4 linked regions of the Homo sapiens genome follow. The protein of the gene in region 1 interacts with the protein of each later gene in a pairwise test. Each region holds a gene or a part of one and is shown on either strand. Other genes may lie near its edges.

The links. The genes of interacting proteins can lie anywhere in the genome.
Region 2: the proteins of PSMB8 (region 1) and TARDBP interact in binary tests that used the Homo sapiens proteins (3 or more experiments, as listed by UniProt).
Region 3: the proteins of PSMB8 (region 1) and UBAP2 interact in binary tests that used the Homo sapiens proteins (3 or more experiments, as listed by UniProt).
Region 4: the proteins of PSMB8 (region 1) and ATXN1 interact in binary tests that used the Homo sapiens proteins (3 or more experiments, as listed by UniProt).

Annotation. Positions count from the first base shown.
Region 1 is NC_000006.12:32,839,317-32,845,353, reverse strand, and holds PSMB8 (proteasome subunit beta type-8 isoform E2 precursor), read left to right. Parts: upstream 1-1,306; 5' UTR 1,307-1,357; coding exon 1,358-1,504; intron 1,505-2,264; coding exon 2,265-2,412; intron 2,413-2,570; coding exon 2,571-2,682; intron 2,683-3,090; coding exon 3,091-3,220; intron 3,221-3,618; coding exon 3,619-3,823; intron 3,824-4,306; coding exon 4,307-4,395; 3' UTR 4,396-4,637; downstream 4,638-6,037. UniProt on the Homo sapiens protein: The proteasome is a multicatalytic proteinase complex which is characterized by its ability to cleave peptides with Arg, Phe, Tyr, Leu, and Glu adjacent to the leaving group at neutral or slightly basic pH.
Region 2 is NC_000001.11:11,019,154-11,022,653, reverse strand, and holds part of TARDBP (TAR DNA-binding protein 43), read right to left. Parts: intron 2,226-3,500; coding exon 2,055-2,225; intron 531-2,054; coding exon 1-530. UniProt on the Homo sapiens protein: RNA-binding protein that is involved in various steps of RNA biogenesis and processing.
Region 3 is NC_000009.12:33,930,388-33,933,887, reverse strand, and holds part of UBAP2 (ubiquitin-associated protein 2), read left to right. Parts: intron 1-259; coding exon 260-398; intron 399-1,259; coding exon 1,260-1,326; intron 1,327-3,500. UniProt on the Homo sapiens protein: Recruits the ubiquitination machinery to RNA polymerase II for polyubiquitination, removal and degradation, when the transcription-coupled nucleotide excision repair (TC-NER) machinery fails to resolve DNA damage. May promote the degradation of ANXA2.
Region 4 is NC_000006.12:16,754,961-16,758,460, forward strand, and holds part of ATXN1 (ataxin-1), read right to left. Parts: intron 1-3,500. UniProt on the Homo sapiens protein: Chromatin-binding factor that repress Notch signaling in the absence of Notch intracellular domain by acting as a CBF1 corepressor. Binds to the HEY promoter and might assist, along with NCOR2, RBPJ-mediated repression. Binds RNA in vitro.

The DNA of each region.
Region 1 (6,037 bases):
TTTGGTGTGGCCAGCACTCTGAAACTGAGAAATGTTCAGAATGTACGGAAAGATGATCAGCTATTTTCAACATAACTGAAGGCATATGCTGGCCCATAAACACCCTGTAGGTTCTTGATATTTATAATAAAATTGGTGTTTTGTACTGTGGTTTCTTATGTTTCCGGCACACCAAACGGCCCACTGCCTTTTGCAGCGCACTTTTCAGCTGCGGATGTCTCCTCTTTTATCATCCTCAATGTTTTACCCCCTAACTGCATCACCTTTTCCCTTAAGCTTTTTAATTCCTATGAGGCCCCTTCCACTTCCCCTATCCCCTTAGGCCCACCCCCAAGAATGTGCAAGACCCCAGCCACAGGGCCCATCAGGGCACTAGCGGCCGCAGCTCAGAGCCGTGGCCTCTCCGAAGTGGCAGATGGGGCGGGCGCGGCCAGAGCAAGTGCCAGGCGGGAACAGAGGGACTGGGCGCGCCTCACAACTCACCACCTCGCCCGCTGGTCCTTCCTGGCTCGCCTGGCTCTGAAGCTGCACCTGGAGGGGAAACCTCAGAACAGTAGGCGGGATTGCCTAGTAAATATCTCCCATTCAGGGAGGCCCAGGTCGTGTGACGTCGACAGTTGCTGGGTAGATGAGGCCAACACAGGTTGCAAGAAGAGGCGGGGTTTAGAGGCGTGAAACTCCGCAGTGCTCAGCCAAGCAGGGAGCAACGCTAGGAAGGGCGGGCAGAAAGGGCACGCTCTTGTGGGTGACTACAGGTTAGGAGACCGTTGAACCTGGAGGGGCCCTAGGATGGACCCCGTGGAAAGATTCAGAGACTGCGCCCTCTCCCTGGCGCCGCCTTCCCCTACACGCGGCGGGTATATTCTGTTGCAGTTGGCCCAGGACCTGTTTCCAAGACTCTGCCCCCTCGCACTTCCGTCCCTCCTGGTTTTGTAAAGTGATGCTCATAGGAACCCCCACCCCGCGTGACACTACTCCCAGCTCCTGGCTGACTTCTAGTCTTCTGGTTGAAGCTGCGCCTTTAGATGACACGACCCTACCCACCCCTGTTTCCAGCGGATGCCCGGGCCTGGAGGTACCTCTTACTGTAACCCATCGCCAAGTGGGCTTTTGAAGGCGCCTGTTCCTTTCTCGCTTTCTTCGGAAGACCCTTGACCCATCATTCCCCCGACCCCCATAACGGGAGAGCAGAGAAGCCGGTCCCCAGTGTGATGGTCCTGGTCCAGGCACTAACTGTCCTTTTCTCGGAAAAGGCAGGGGGATGTGGAAAAGAGTCTTGTTCCCTCCCCTTCGATCTGTGGCTTTCGCTTTCACTTCCTCCTCCGAGAGCGGACAGATCTCTGGGTGCTGGGCGGTCATGGCGCTACTAGATGTATGCGGAGCCCCCCGAGGGCAGCGGCCGGAATCGGCTCTCCCGGTTGCGGGAAGCGGGCGTCGCTCGGACCCAGGACACTACAGTTTCTCTATGCGATCTCCAGAGCTCGCTTTACCCCGGGGAATGCAGGTCGGGGCAGTAGGGAAGCCCCTAGGGATGCAGGGAGGCGGGCGCTGAGGAGTGGAGGGTCGCCTGAGAGGAGGAGGCGAGAGCGGGAGCGCGGGGTACAGGGTCGGGGGTAGCCTTCAGTCCCGGAGAGCGCCAGACCCAAAGAAGAGGCCACATGGGGATGGGGCCTGAGAGGAGGAAGTGCAAGTTAGGACAAAGAGTTACAGGTGAGGTGGGGGCTCCCAAAGGAAGACAAGAGAACTTTCCTGCCCTTGTCCACACACAAATGGTGGAGCCTTTTTCATGGGGTTATCACATGATATAGGAGGTGTGTGGTGTCTTGGGAAACCTATGAAATTTGCCTGCTGGCCTCCTCTCAGCAACTCACTGTTGCGCGACTTAGAACAAGTCACTTAGTCTAGGTCCCAAGCCCCTCTTCTGTAAAGTGAGGATACTGTTACTAAACGTGTTTTGTGAGGGTTGAATGCTTTATGCATGGAAGAAACCCTTTAAGTCACTCTCAAAATTTTTTAGTAATGGTAACATGTGCTTGCTTTCATTTCTGTTGTGCTGGAAAATGGAAAAGGTTGATACTGGCATGCCTCTTCTTTTCCTTCTCCCAAGCCATTTCCTTCTAGAGATTGGTTATTAACTGTTTCATTTATTGATGGTTAGATCATTTCTGCATATCTCCTCACCCTCATACTCCCTAAAACCTTTTCCTGGAGCCTCTTACTACAGAATTTTTCATTGCCTTTCTCAACCTCTTTTCTCTTATCAGCCCACAGAATTCTTCCAGTCCCTGGGTGGGGACGGAGAAAGGAACGTTCAGATTGAGATGGCCCATGGCACCACCACGCTCGCCTTCAAGTTCCAGCATGGAGTGATTGCAGCAGTGGATTCTCGGGCCTCAGCTGGGTCCTACATTAGTGAGTGTATACGCTCCAGCAGGCAGAATCTGGGGAGCTGGGCTCTCCTTTCCACAGGAGGCCAACTCTGCAACAAAGTGGAAGTGGATATTGATTTAGGACACACTGGGGGATCTATGGGGTCATCCCTTCTCTCCCAAAGCTCCATCTTCTTCCAGGTGCCTTACGGGTGAACAAGGTGATTGAGATTAACCCTTACCTGCTTGGCACCATGTCTGGCTGTGCAGCAGACTGTCAGTACTGGGAGCGCCTGCTGGCCAAGGAATGCAGGTAAGCGAGGCCTCTCATCTTCCTTTCTTAGCCTAGTGGTTAATCCCTGGATCTCTCAGATCATTGCTCCTTACTCTTGTCCTATGTGGTCCATCTTAGTGCTAATAGTATATTTCACAAAACAGCTTTTTGGTGATAAGACCCTTCTCCCAAATCTCAGCCTGTGCTCCACTCATAAGCCAGATAGTACGTCAGGTATTTAGCACTGACACATCCACCCTGGCGGGACAGTATCATTTACTAGGCTGCCTTTGTATGTTTCAGATACTTTAAATTCCAAATCTTTCTCTGATCTTTAGATCCTACAAAATAATTCCTTTCCAATGCTTATCTCTTTAATCATTTCCTGCCCCATCAAGTTGGAAAGAGCTAACCTCTCTTTCCTCACTCCACCTTGTCCTCACCCAGGCTGTACTATCTGCGAAATGGAGAACGTATTTCAGTGTCGGCAGCCTCCAAGCTGCTGTCCAACATGATGTGCCAGTACCGGGGCATGGGCCTCTCTATGGGCAGTATGATCTGTGGCTGGGATAAGAAGGTGGGTGCTCTCCATTCTTCATGTTCCCCCACCATGTTCCCTATGGATGACAGATCTGTTTCCCATCATATACTCCTACTCCCTCCCTGACAAGATGCATGGCATATAGAGTGCTTGGTTATAGAACTGTTTCAGTATATCCATGGACTATTTATTGGCCCAGATATGAATCATTGCATGTGTTTTGTAAGCTTGTCCCTTTTGTTAAACAGTTGATTTCAAGTTTGTTTTTCCTTTTTCATTTCTAAAGTTCGATGACTTTACCAAAGTGGTTTCCTAATTCCAATGTTCTTGTGGTAATATTAATTCTTTTGTTCACTTTTTATGTCTCATATTTGAACCCCCATGTTACCAACATCTTCCTCTCCAATTTCAGCCTGAAATCTTTCATCTTATAGGGTCCTGGACTCTACTACGTGGATGAACATGGGACTCGGCTCTCAGGAAATATGTTCTCCACGGGTAGTGGGAACACTTATGCCTACGGGGTCATGGACAGTGGCTATCGGCCTAATCTTAGCCCTGAAGAGGCCTATGACCTTGGCCGCAGGGCTATTGCTTATGCCACTCACAGAGACAGCTATTCTGGAGGCGTTGTCAATAGTAAGAGACCAATGCTCCCACCACCATGCCTGGGAGGAGTCGGCGGGTGGTGGGGGGGGTGATTTAAGATTGAGAAACCAGCCTGGCCAACATGGCGAAACCCCGTCTCTACTAAAACTACAAAAATTAGCCGGACGTGGTGACGGGTGCCTGTAGTCCCAGCTACTTGGGAGGCTGAGGCAGGAGAATCACTTGAACCTGGGAGGTGGAGCTTGCAGTGAGCCAAGATGGCGCCACTGCATTCCAGTCTGGGCCACAGAGTGAGACTCCTTCTCAAAAGAAAAAAAAGAAAATGATTGAGAGACTCAAAGGAGGGAGAGTAGTAGGGAGGAAATTTTCAGAGTCAGAAGAAGGGCATTAAAGGCCCAGTCATATGGTTTTAAGCTTGCGCATGTGTCTTGTTGCTGCCTTCAACATAACATCAGTGACAGGAACTTGCTGAGGTGAAAGGTGACTCCATGTTCTTTTCTCATTTGTCCACAGTGTACCACATGAAGGAAGATGGTTGGGTGAAAGTAGAAAGTACAGATGTCAGTGACCTGCTGCACCAGTACCGGGAAGCCAATCAATAATGGTGGTGGTGGCAGCTGGGCAGGTCTCCTCTGGGAGGTCTTGGCCGACTCAGGGACCTAAGCCACGTTAAGTCCAAGGAGAAGAAGAGGCCTAGCCTGAGCCAAAGAGAGAGTACGGGCTCAGCAGCCAGAGGAGGCCGGTGAAGTGCATCTTCTGCGTGTTCTCTATTTGAACAAGCATTTCCCCCAGGGAAGTTTCTGGGTGCCCCACTAAGTAGAATAAAGAAAAACGGTTATAAATACCTCTGTCTTGTGGCTGAATGGGGTTGGGCCTGTGGTTGTTGGGTGGGGCAGAAAGTAAAGAGACGCTTTTTCTGGAGAAGGGGCTCAGACCCCTATCTAAGAAATGTGGCCTCACCACATAGTTCTTCCTGGGGTTTCCTTCCACACTCATCTCTCCAAGACCTCAGGAAGGCTGCTCATTGCTGTCCATGGACACTTGTTTGCAATTTCACATAGGTTAGGGTCCTTTCCATAGAGAGGCACCTGGGGACTCCTGTGTGTTCCATTGTTAATGGTTTGAGGAACAGGGAGTAGGGCACCTAGGATAACTGTTTTTGACTTTATAGAGTAGGATGAAAAAGCTTCCACTTCACTTTAATATGGTAATCATATAAACACCATACCATTTATCCCAAATAACACTTTGGAGATATTGGATATTGAATATAAAGACAGACATTAAGGGTCTAATTTCATGATGTGTCATGCTGAATTGCAAGATGGCAGGACTATAATTTTAGAGGAAGAAGAGATCAGGAGGACTCCCCTAAGTGAGGAGTGTGGGGAAAATGTAAAAGATCCAGGTTAGAAGAAAGAGACACACATCATGAGATTTTCGGAATCATGCTGGAACTATGGACCATGTCACTTTCCAGAAAATAAAGGAAACAAATGCTTGAAAGTAGGAGCATGAGCTTGAGCATGGAGCTTTTTTCATTAGAGAGAGATTCTTAAAATGCCAGAATGAATAGAGTTGTAAAACTTTAGCGAGCCCCTACTTAAAATCCCTCCTCCCCACCACCACTATTTTAAACTTTAAGTGACTCCTTGGTAGTCACACAGGTAACATTTCAAAATGGTGATCTGGAATCCAAGCGACCCTTCCTTTGGGGAATTTGTTTGTTTGTTTGTTTTTAGTTTGGGAGGTGGTTTCAATCTGAAGAGTCCTTTCTGGAATAAACGAATCTTTCTGTTGCATAGGAAGGCTCTGGGTCAGGAAGGATATTTAAAAACCTAATTACTGTTCTAAACAGTGTTAAAATAGAACAAGAACCAAAGCTCAGTACGGGGCATTTCCCTCATAGGCTGAAGGTGCGCCCAACATAATTTGGAGTACAGACTCAGAGGCACCTGAACACGCGCCAGCTCAAGGTGCTCCGGCTGAGAAGGACGGATGAAGATGAACGCTCAGGGCCTACTAAATTCAAAGTCTGTACGTGAAAATCCCCTTTGGCCTGGTGAGATTGGTTGGAACCTTCTATTTAGGAGAGCCCGGCTCGCTCGCCTAAAACTGGAGCTTGCATGGAAGAGGGCACTTTTTTTTTTTTTAGACGAAGTCTCACTCTTGTCGCCCAGGCTGGAGTGCAATGACCCGATCTCGGCTCACTGAAACCTCTGCCTCCTGAGTTCAAGCGATTCC
Region 2 (3,500 bases), on another chromosome or scaffold:
TACATTCCCCAGCCAGAAGACTTAGAATCCATGCTTGAGCCAAAGCCTCCATTAAAACCACTGCCCGACCCTGCATTGGATGCTGATCCCCAACCAATTGCTGCACCAGAATTAGAGCCACTATAAGAGTTATTTCCAGAACCGAAGGCCTGGTTTGGCTCCCTCTGCATGTTGCCTTGGTTTTGGTTATTACCCGATGGGCCTGACTGGTTCTGCTGGCTGGCTAACATGCCCATCATACCCCAACTGCTCTGTAGTGCTGCCTGGGCGGCAGCCATCATGGCTGGATTAATGCTGAACGCACCAAAGTTCATCCCACCACCCATATTACTACCTTGATTGTTTCCCAAACCAGCTCCACCCCCTCTGCTATTACCAAATCCACCCTGATTCCCAAAGCCACCTGGATTACCACCAAATCTTCCACTTCTTTCTAACTGTCTATTGCTATTGTGCTTAGGTTCGGCATTGGATATATGAACGCTGATTCCTTTAATGATCAAGTCCTCTCCACAAAGAGACTGCGCAATCTATAAGAAATAAGGGATGTAAACAAAGAAGATTAAACCACTGATTCATATATTTAAAGTAGCAACAAAACTTAGATTACAAGCATTAATTTATCTAAAGCCAGAGGAAAAATAAGCAATGAACACTCATTTCATTTAAACCCCCAATACAGCTTTTAGTTTTATTAACAGCAGCAGTGATATTTCAGTCGATTTTCAAAAGACATAGGCTGGGCATGGTGGCTCATGCCTGTAATCCTAGCGCTTTGGGAGGCCAAGGTGGGAGGACTGTGTGAGGCCAATAGTTCAAGACTAGCCTGGCAGCCTAGACAACACAGGGAGACCCCACCTCTATCAAAAAAAACCACAAAAAAGCCACATTAGCTGGGCGTAGTGGCATGCATCTGTCCTAGCTACTTGGGAGGCTGAAGCTGGAGGATCCTCCCCCTGGAGGCTGAGCCCAGGAGTTCTAGGGTGTAGTGAGCTATGATTACACCACTGTGTTCCACCAGCCTGGGCAACAGAGTGAGACCCTGTCTCAAAATAATAATTTAAAAAATGGGCCGGGAGCAGGAGCAGTGGCTCACGCCTGTAATCCCAGCACTTTGGGAGGCTGAGGGGGGTGGATCACCTGAGGTCAGGAGTTCAAGACCAGCCAGATCAAAACAGTGAAACCCCGTTATCTACTAAAGATACAAAAAACTGGCCAGGCGTGGTGGCTCATGCCTGTAATCCCAGCACTTTGGGAGGCTGAGATGGGCAGATCACCTGAGGTCAGGAGTTCGAGACCAGCCTGGCCAACATGGTGAAACCCTGTCTCTACTAAAAGCACAAAAAAATCAGCCAGGCGTGGTGGCAGGCACCTGTAATCCCAGCTACTCAGGAGGCTGAGCCAAGACAATCGCTTGAACCCATGAGGTGGAGGATGCAGCGAGCCAAGATCGCGCCATCACACTCCAGCCCGGGCAACAAGAGCAAAACTCTGTCTCAAAAAAAAAAAAAAAGTATATAACATTCCCAAATGCCACATACTGAAAATTATCTAAAGGCATATTTACTTTTAGATTTCTTAAAATGTTGTATTTGTGATATCAGATACAGGTATCACAAACATCTAGGCCCATACACCCTACGTCTTACAAGGTCAGAAAACTTAGCTAAGAATAGCAATTAGCTGCATGGGCAATGTTCAAGAGAAATTACCTAATTACCTGGGACATATTTTTTTTTTTGAGACAGAGTCTCACTCTGTCACTGGGCTGGAATGCAGTGGTGTGATCTCAGTTCACTGCCACCTCCGCCTCCTGGGTTCAAGCGATTCCCCTGCCTCAGGCTCCAGAGTAGCTGGGACCACAGGCGTGCACCACCACACCGAGCTATTTTTTTTTTTTTTTGTATTTTAATAGAGACGGGGTTTCACCATGTTGGCCAGGATGGTCTTGATCTCCTGACCTCGTGATCCACCCGCCTCGGCCTCCAAAGTGCTGGGATTGTAAGCATGAGCCACCACGCCCGGCCGGGACATATCGTTAAGGAGAAAAATACCTGATCATCTGCAAATGTAACAAAGGCAAAGGCCCTGAATGGCTTGGGGATGAAGACATCCATCACATCCCCGTACTGAGAGAAGAACTCCCGCAGCTCATCCTCAGTCATGTCCTCTGTACAGCGCCCCACAAACACTTTTCTGCTTCTCAAAGGCTCATCTTGGCTTTGCTGATCAAATCAAAAGGAAGAAAAAAACTCAGAAATATGTTATGAACAATGAAAAAAACATTAAGGTAAGGGATATAACAAAATCATTCGCCTTGGATAGCAGTGAACCATTAAAAAGTAGACGTACCCTTAATTTTTTCCATCAGCATTTCTTTTTCTTGTAAGGCTTCAGTGAAGAGTAACGTTTTAAGTTACAAAAGTACACAGTCATGCATCACATAATGATGGATATAAATACATCATGAGCCATTACACAATTTCATCATCGTGGCCAGGTGTGGTGGCTGACACCTGTAATCCCAGCACTTTGAGAGGCCGAGGCGGGTGGATCACTTGAGGTCAGGAGTTCAAACCAGCCTGGTCAACATGGTGAAACCCCACCTCTACTAATACAAAAATCAGCCGGGTGTGGTGGCAGGCACCTGTAATCCCAGCATCTTGGGAGGCTGAGGTAGGAGAATCACTTGAACCCGGAAGAGGAGGTTGCAGTGAGCCAAGATTGCACCATTGCACTCCAGCCTGAGCAATAAGAGTGAAACTCCATCTCAAAAAAAAAAAAAAAGGGCCAGGTGCGGTGGCTCACACCTGTAATCCCAGCACTTTGGGAGCCCGAGATGGGCGGATCATGAAGTCAGGAGATCAAGACCATCCTGGCTAACACGGTGAAACCCCATCTCTACTAAAAATACAAAAAATTAGCCAGGCGTGTTGGTGGGCACCTGTAGTCCCAGCTACTCGGCAGGCTGAGGCAGGAGAACGACGTGAACCCGGGAGGCAGAGCTTGCAGTGAGCTGAGATTGCACCACTGCACTCCAGCCCGGATGACAGAGTGAGACTCTCTCTCTCAAAAAAAAAAAGTCGTTGTGCAAACATCATATAAACCCAGATAGCATAGCCTACCCCACATCTAGGCTAGATGGTATAGCCTATTGCTCCCAGGCCACAAACTTTCAAGTTACTGTACTCAACACTGTAGGCGACTATAACATGATGGTAAGTATTTGTGTATCTAAACATAGAAAGGGTACAGTAAAAACAGTGTTATAATCCTATGGGACCACTGCTGTACACGAGGTCTGCTGCTGACTGATCAACTTTGCCATGTGATACATGACTGTGTTTGGATTTGAGAAAATTAATAAATAAGCAATCTCTTGGCAAAGATGATGATGTTCCAAATAAGCCAATGTTATTTGTTTGCTTGGAAAAAGTTAGGTCTTTATAACAATTAATGTATGTATTCTGATTCTCTTTATGTTTTAACATATAACTATG
Region 3 (3,500 bases), on another chromosome or scaffold:
GGTTGGGTTATAAAGGTGTCATTTCCTATTCTTTGCTGCATCTTGAACAGCTGACCATGGTGTGGTGTCCTTTGATAGTGTTGTTTGACAGACAAAGGGCTATCTGGCGATATGCTTGGCATTTTCCTGGGGAATGTAACTTTATGGACGTCTCAACTGAGGCTGACATGTCACAAGATATTGAGCATATTTTCAGGCACTTAGGATTGGTTTTAGAAATAAACAGATCTGCTTCTTACAGCTACTTCATCTGTTCCAGCTCCAAAGACAACAGGCCCTCCCTCTGCCCTCCCGTCTGTGAGCTCCCTGCCCAGCACCACCTCCTGCACTGCACTTCTGCCGTCCACATCCCAGCACACTGGCGACCTGACTAGCAGCCCTCTCTCTCAGCTTAGCAGGTATGGGGAAGGTGTGGGCCCAAAGTGAGAAGTACCTTGGGGCAAGTCCTGGAGCTCCTGTAGAAGGTTGCTTTCATGAACAGAGCACACTTGTTGTCTCTGACGTGATGTCCTGGGCTTTTGCATTACGACTGTAGCTTAGGTTTTGGCCAGGTTGTTCCTTAAAACCACCAGATATGGAAACCTTGCCTGCTTGTACCGCCTCTGCTGGCACAGAGCACTGGGTCCCCTGGGAGTAGGGTGAGGCCAGCAGCTCCCTCCTACCTGTCTTCACCCTCCAGAGGGTGCCTGAGCCTAGCCTCTCTGGGCATCGCTGGGCCCATGTCACTGAGGTGGAATGAGAATGATGGATTTCTGAGCAGGTGTCTGACTTGAACTTTCCATGGCTGAAGAAACGATGTTATTAGAACAAGGTGTAGGAAAATGGGTGGCGTTGCTACCTGTGTCTTCTGAGGAGTGTTCTCCATCACTCTTTAGCTAGGAGCAAAAGTGGATTTGATGGGAATTGGCATGTGGAGTTGAGCATAGGAACTTTGATCCCTCGTTCACAGATTGAATGGGATTGTCAAGGATGACCGTGTTCTTAGTGCAACTCTGTCTTCACTTTTCGCATCTGAGGAGCAAATGGATGTCGTTGAGGGAAGCTGGCTCTGGAGTTTTCCAGACCTCATGGCGAGTCATTCCCGTCCACCAGGACCCCATCACTGGGCTCTGTGGGGATAAGGAATGAGGATGGGTCTGAAGCCGGTCCTGTGCTAGGGACTATGATAAGTTTGAATCTAGCTCACTGACCCACGTGCGTCTTGTTCATCTGGAGTCACTTGTTCAGGTGGACATACGGCGCTCTGTTTTGTCTTCTAGTTCGCTCTCCAGCCACCAGAGCAGCCTCTCTGCACATGCAGCCCTCTCCTCGAGCACGTCACACACAGTAAGTGTCTGCGCGGCTTCCTCTTCCTCCGCCATGCTTGGGGAGCCTGGAGCTTAGTCACATGCAGCTGGGGCTTCAGTCTGATTTTTAGTGTCTGATAATCTAGAGTTGCTTGGCTGAAATGTCTTGATGGCATGATCTGGTTCGAGCTTCTGATTTCCTGGGCACCATCTGGGGACATCTTGCTTTCTAAGTTTGTAGCGCCTGGGAAGAATCATTGCTCCAGACCTTATCTGTCATTGGCAGGAGTGTCAGGTGGTGACCTTGCTCCCAGGAATTTGCTGTTTGATCTTTCCTCGTGCCTTCTTTCCTGACTCAGACGCAGAGATTGCAAGAAGGTCAATGTTGGAGAAGGGAGTCTAGATGGTGGAGGGCAGGAGTGGAAGCAAACATGCACTGCCGAGAAGCCAGGCAGGAGGGCTGGAGTCGGCGCGCCAGCTTTAATTTTCCTCATATGCCAAAGAGTAGCCCTAGATTATGGTTATTGAGGTGTGGCTCAGTGGGTCGTGGAGCCGTGAGCATGGCTTTCAGTGGTAGGAGTCAGCCAGATTGTGGTGGGTTGCGGAGTGAATGGTAGTGAGATGGAGAGGAGGGAGGAGGATTGTAGAGGGCATGCAATGAAAACTTAAGAGAGGCTGGAGCCTCTATTGGGAGGATAGAAAGGTGCCTGGATTAACAAAAAGTGCATGCTCCTGGACAACAGGAGGTGTTGGGCGAGGTTGGAGTAGGCAGGTCCACAGGCTGGGAGGAAGGATTAGGGTGCAGACGAATGGAGGAGGCAGGAAACTGATGAACTTGGTGTCCTCTGAAGAAGACAGCAGCTCACCAGCAGAGTGAGGTGGTGGAAAAGGGACATCCTGTCCTTTCCTCTGGATCTGGCTAATGCTGTGGCTTTCATACTCTAGTGTTCCAAGTCAAACCTTACACAGAATCTTTTATCATAAAACACACAAACTGCCACTTTCAAAGGAGAGCATAGTGTGGACACCTCTGCCTGTCCCTCTGCCCCTGCCCTCTGTGGCTCATGGGAGTGGTGAGCTGACCTCAGCAGGAGTGCCGTGGAGCTGTCCTCTGTGTCCGTGCCACTGCTGCCTGGGAGCCCAGTGCTCCTGCACTCATGGGGAGCTGCACTCTCCATCTCCTCAAAAAAAAACCTCCAGACCATGTATTCCAGCCTGCCACAGCCAGAATCGTCTCATCCAGTGGGTCCCATACTTTGTCAGCATGACAGAACTGTGACATTGCTAATACAGTTGTCCCTCCATATATGCAGGGGATTCATTCCAGGACCACTGCATACACCAAAATCTGCACATTCTCAAGTCCCACAGTTGCCCCTGTGGAACCCACCTATAGGAAAAGTCAGCCTTCCAAATATGGGTGTTTTCAAATTATGTATGCGTGCATTGGGTTGAAAAAGAAATCTGCCTGTAAGTGGACCCATGCATTTCAAGCCTGTGTTGTTCAGGGGTCAACTGTTTGTTCATAATATTTCATCTGAAAAGTTATGGAAAGATAGACAATGAAAAGTTTTTCTGTCTCTCATCTACTTGGCTCTACCCTTACATTTTCTCCATCCTTTTAATAAATAAAAGTCAAAACACGCAGTGCATACATGTAGTCATTTCCCCATTATCATCCGCTTTTTTTTTTTTTTTTTTTTTTTGAGATGCAGTCTCACTCTGTCGCCTAGGCTGGAGTGCAATGGCGCAATCTCAGCTCACTGCAACCTCCACTTCCCGGGTTCAAGCGATCCTCCTGCCTCAGTCTCCTGAGTAGCTGGGGTTACAGGCGCATACCACCATGCCCGGATAATTTTTGTATTTTTAGTAGAGACGGGATTTCACTATGTTGGTCAGACTGGTCTCAAACTCCTGACCTCGTAATCCACCCGCCTCGGCCTCCCAAAGTGGTGGGATTACAGGCGTGAACCACCGCGCCCGGCCATCATCTGCCCTTTTTATTCTTTTTCTCTTGTTACATAAATGAGAGTATTTTATGTACAGTGTCCTTCAACTTTTTTTTCCCCACTTGTGTATCCCCACAAGTGTATCTTGATGTTTCCATGTTGAAACTTAAGGGTTTTTTGTTGTTGTTGTTGTTGTTTCCCCACAGTTCTGCTTTATGATGTTATTTAAGGTTATTTAAGCAGCCGTCCATTTAGGGTCGTTTTC
Region 4 (3,500 bases), about 16 Mb from region 1:
TCAAAATACTTGATTCTCAAATGAGGTGCAGGTACCATAAATTTACAGACAGTGCTTTTTATGAGCTCACCAGTTGGGAGAGTGTTTGCCTATATGACAATGTGTGTGCACACAATCCTGTTTACATATCACCTGGCAGATAAGGTTTTATAGAGTCCAAGTTACAACCTCCTCCTAGTTTGCTGAAGTGCAGAGGAGGGTCAAACATGATGTAAATGCCATAGAAGATTACTTTACTCTTGCATGAGTATGCTTTCTTATTTCAAAAGTATTTGTGTTGCTGCACTAGTTAGGATAATACAGAGAGTTTACATAACTTGTATTCCATCAGAGGGAAGAAGGCAAGAATACAAGCAAGGCAGCACGTATTCACTGCAAAAACTTACAAAATAATATACCAGAAAATAATTTATAGGACATTTTATACAATAATATACACCAAAAATGGAATACTCAATATTTTTAAAACCCAGCAGAGCAACATAATACAATACTATTAATATTGGAAGATTAACAAGAAAGACGGCCTAAACAAAACTGAGGTAATGGTCAGTAAGTACCAGGAGATAATGTGAGAAAGGGGAACAAAATTAAGGGCACAAGAAAATAAAGTTTGCCATACACAGTGACAGAAAAATATATTTTCTTTGAACGTTAGAAGGATAGATGCTATAGGTTAGTAGCTACAATAACTGTCACGAAAAACTTCTGCTACCTAACTCATTCAAAACTTGTCATGTTAAAGGGCACCTAAGTGTAAAAAAAAAAAAAAAGAGTTCCTCTTAGCCCAAATCAAAACATCACAATCGGGGAAACCTCTGCCCTCTTGAGTCTCAAATTCTGAGTACACTACCATGAATTTTCTGGAAAGTAATTTTCAGGTAGGATACAATTTTTGCTTACATTGTGGCAATTATCATTACATTTTCATTACTCCACAAATGGGATGCATTAAAAGTTACAGAAAAATCAATGAAACATTTCTGCTAACATGAAATATGTCAAACAAAATATAATGCTTGTTGCTTTTTTGTCCATAATTGTTCTCTCTAAACGTGTTTTGGTACATTTGGGATGGTAGTAATGCGTAATACAAATATTTATAGTACATTAGCCTGAAAGTTCAAATTATGAGCGTTATAAAATATATTACTACACTAATAAAGACAAATATCCATAAATATAATTATAAAAGAATAAAATAAAAAACTTTCCATAAGATTTGTCTAAAACCATTCTTTTTATTACTTCTGTAATTTTAAGCATTTATATATTTTTAAAAATCTCAATGTAATTACCGTTCTTTCAGCCAACATTTAAAAAATTCTGTAAAACTGACACTGTATATCACTTCTTAAAAAAATTTTGAATGAGTACATTTATTTTATTAAACTAAATTACATGAAAATAAAATGTGAACATAATTGATGACTTAAAATTCTTATCTTAGAAAAGGAAGTTCTATATGTAAGGTCCTAAAACAGAAATTATTATTTCTATTACCATTTCTACAATGTATTGCTTTCAATGCTTTTATCAAAATAAGGAGGGCCTGCTTCTGATAACCTTGGAAGTATGACCAGAACTAAATCTGTTATTTGAAGCAATTAAGCTGCACAGATCTAAATCTCTCACAGAAACTAATCATTCGAACTATTGAATTACTCTGAAAATACAGAGCAAGGAAAGTCAAATAATCTATCTCTCCCCTAAAAATAATAGCCTGTCTTACTTCACTATTGTCACTTTACCGATGCAAGTATTTAAGCTGTTCAGATCCTAATCTATGTGTTATTTTCAGATAACTACAGTTTAAAGAATTAACATTCACTCCCACATTTACCTACTTACGTGAGTTTCAGAATTTTAGTAAAATATGTTTATTGCTTAACTTTTAATAGGAAACAAAATGAGTGTTAGTGTTAGTCATCAGAAACTGTCACTCAAGGTATGTGCAAAAAAGTAAAATCCACTTGACATTTCAGAATGAAAAACAATAAAGGCACAACATTATTCAAAGAAATGTGCGTCCTTGGACTCCATAATGACAACAAAAACAGGAGTCATAGTAATGTTTACTAATATTTCAATAATCTCAGCACTGGCCTTTCCCAGGACTCCTAGGCAACTGACTTAGGTATGTTGAAACTTACAGGCATTTGACATGTAATCTTGTGGCTAAAGAGTTTCTGTTTAATCTTCCTCTAAGTGTAAAAGACAATTCAGAAGTCCTGAAGTCTAGTCGTAACATTTTTGACAAAGTGTCACTTCTGTTTACCAAACCCTCTTAAAACGAAATCCGCAAGGAAAAATATTGCCTTTGGCGGTTCCCACCAGGTACATTTTTTTATACTTATTTTCACATGAATTTATTTGTGCACTGAAAAATATATGTTCACATTTTACTGCAAGTAAAGCATTTTTCTATATGTTGCAAAATAGAATCCAGGACCTCCAAGGCATTGTGTAATATTGACATCCTTGCTTCCCATCTATTTACCACCTTATAAAAGTTGAGTAGCTAGAAGAAATAATAGCTCATTTTAACTACAGCAGTGCTTCATCTGACCAGGCCACAATGAATTTACCAACCACATAAACTCACAAAACGGTAAAAACTCATAAACCCCCTGGGAATAGAGTTGAGTAGCTCTCTCAATCCTAGCCCTGGGGGAAAAAATTTACCAGTTTAGCTTTGTTGGCCATAAAATTGTAAACTGACTGGCAGTCACAACTAAATCAAGACATAATTCTCAATTATCTTTTCTTTCAAATACCAGGGTTATGAAAATACTCCCCCCCGCCCGCCCCCTGCCCCACTTAGTTGGATTGCCTGAGCAGCACAGAGCTTCAGCAACTAAAGCAACTTTTCCTTTTTTCCTTTTTGCCATAATATTATTTCTCTTTGCTTAGCCAGCTTTATCAGTGGTGCCCTAATGCAAAGACTAGAATACTGCTTTCTAACTGCTCACTAAATTACATCCTAAAATAAAGTACATGTTTATTGTCCAAAAGCACCATGCACTATCAGTCCTCTAGCTATAGGCCTCTATCGTTTCTCGCTTAGCTAAGGAAAAAAAAATCCTTTTAACTTACTACCAAAGATCATTCAAATCACAGCCAATAGATCCAAATTAAGAATGAATACATTCAGAATGTCTGCCTACTGTCAGTACCAGTTTTTGTTATGATGGCTGTCAAGTTTTAAAATGTGACAATGGGAATATATTTTCCGAATAAGTTATTCCCCTGAGTAAACCCTTTAGAAATCCAGCCATCGCTATGGGCAATGGAGGTTCCAAATGATGAACGCTCTTCACACTTGAAAGGGTTAAGTGACTGACTGCAAGGCCAAAGGCACCAGACTGCAAAAGAAATGTTGCTTTAGTGAGCTCTGAAAGGTTTCTAACAAGTACCAAATACTTGTTGATCTGTTCACAATAAACACCAGCAGGATTGTCAGGCTCCTTTCACTGTCTGGGGAGATGCATTTACATACT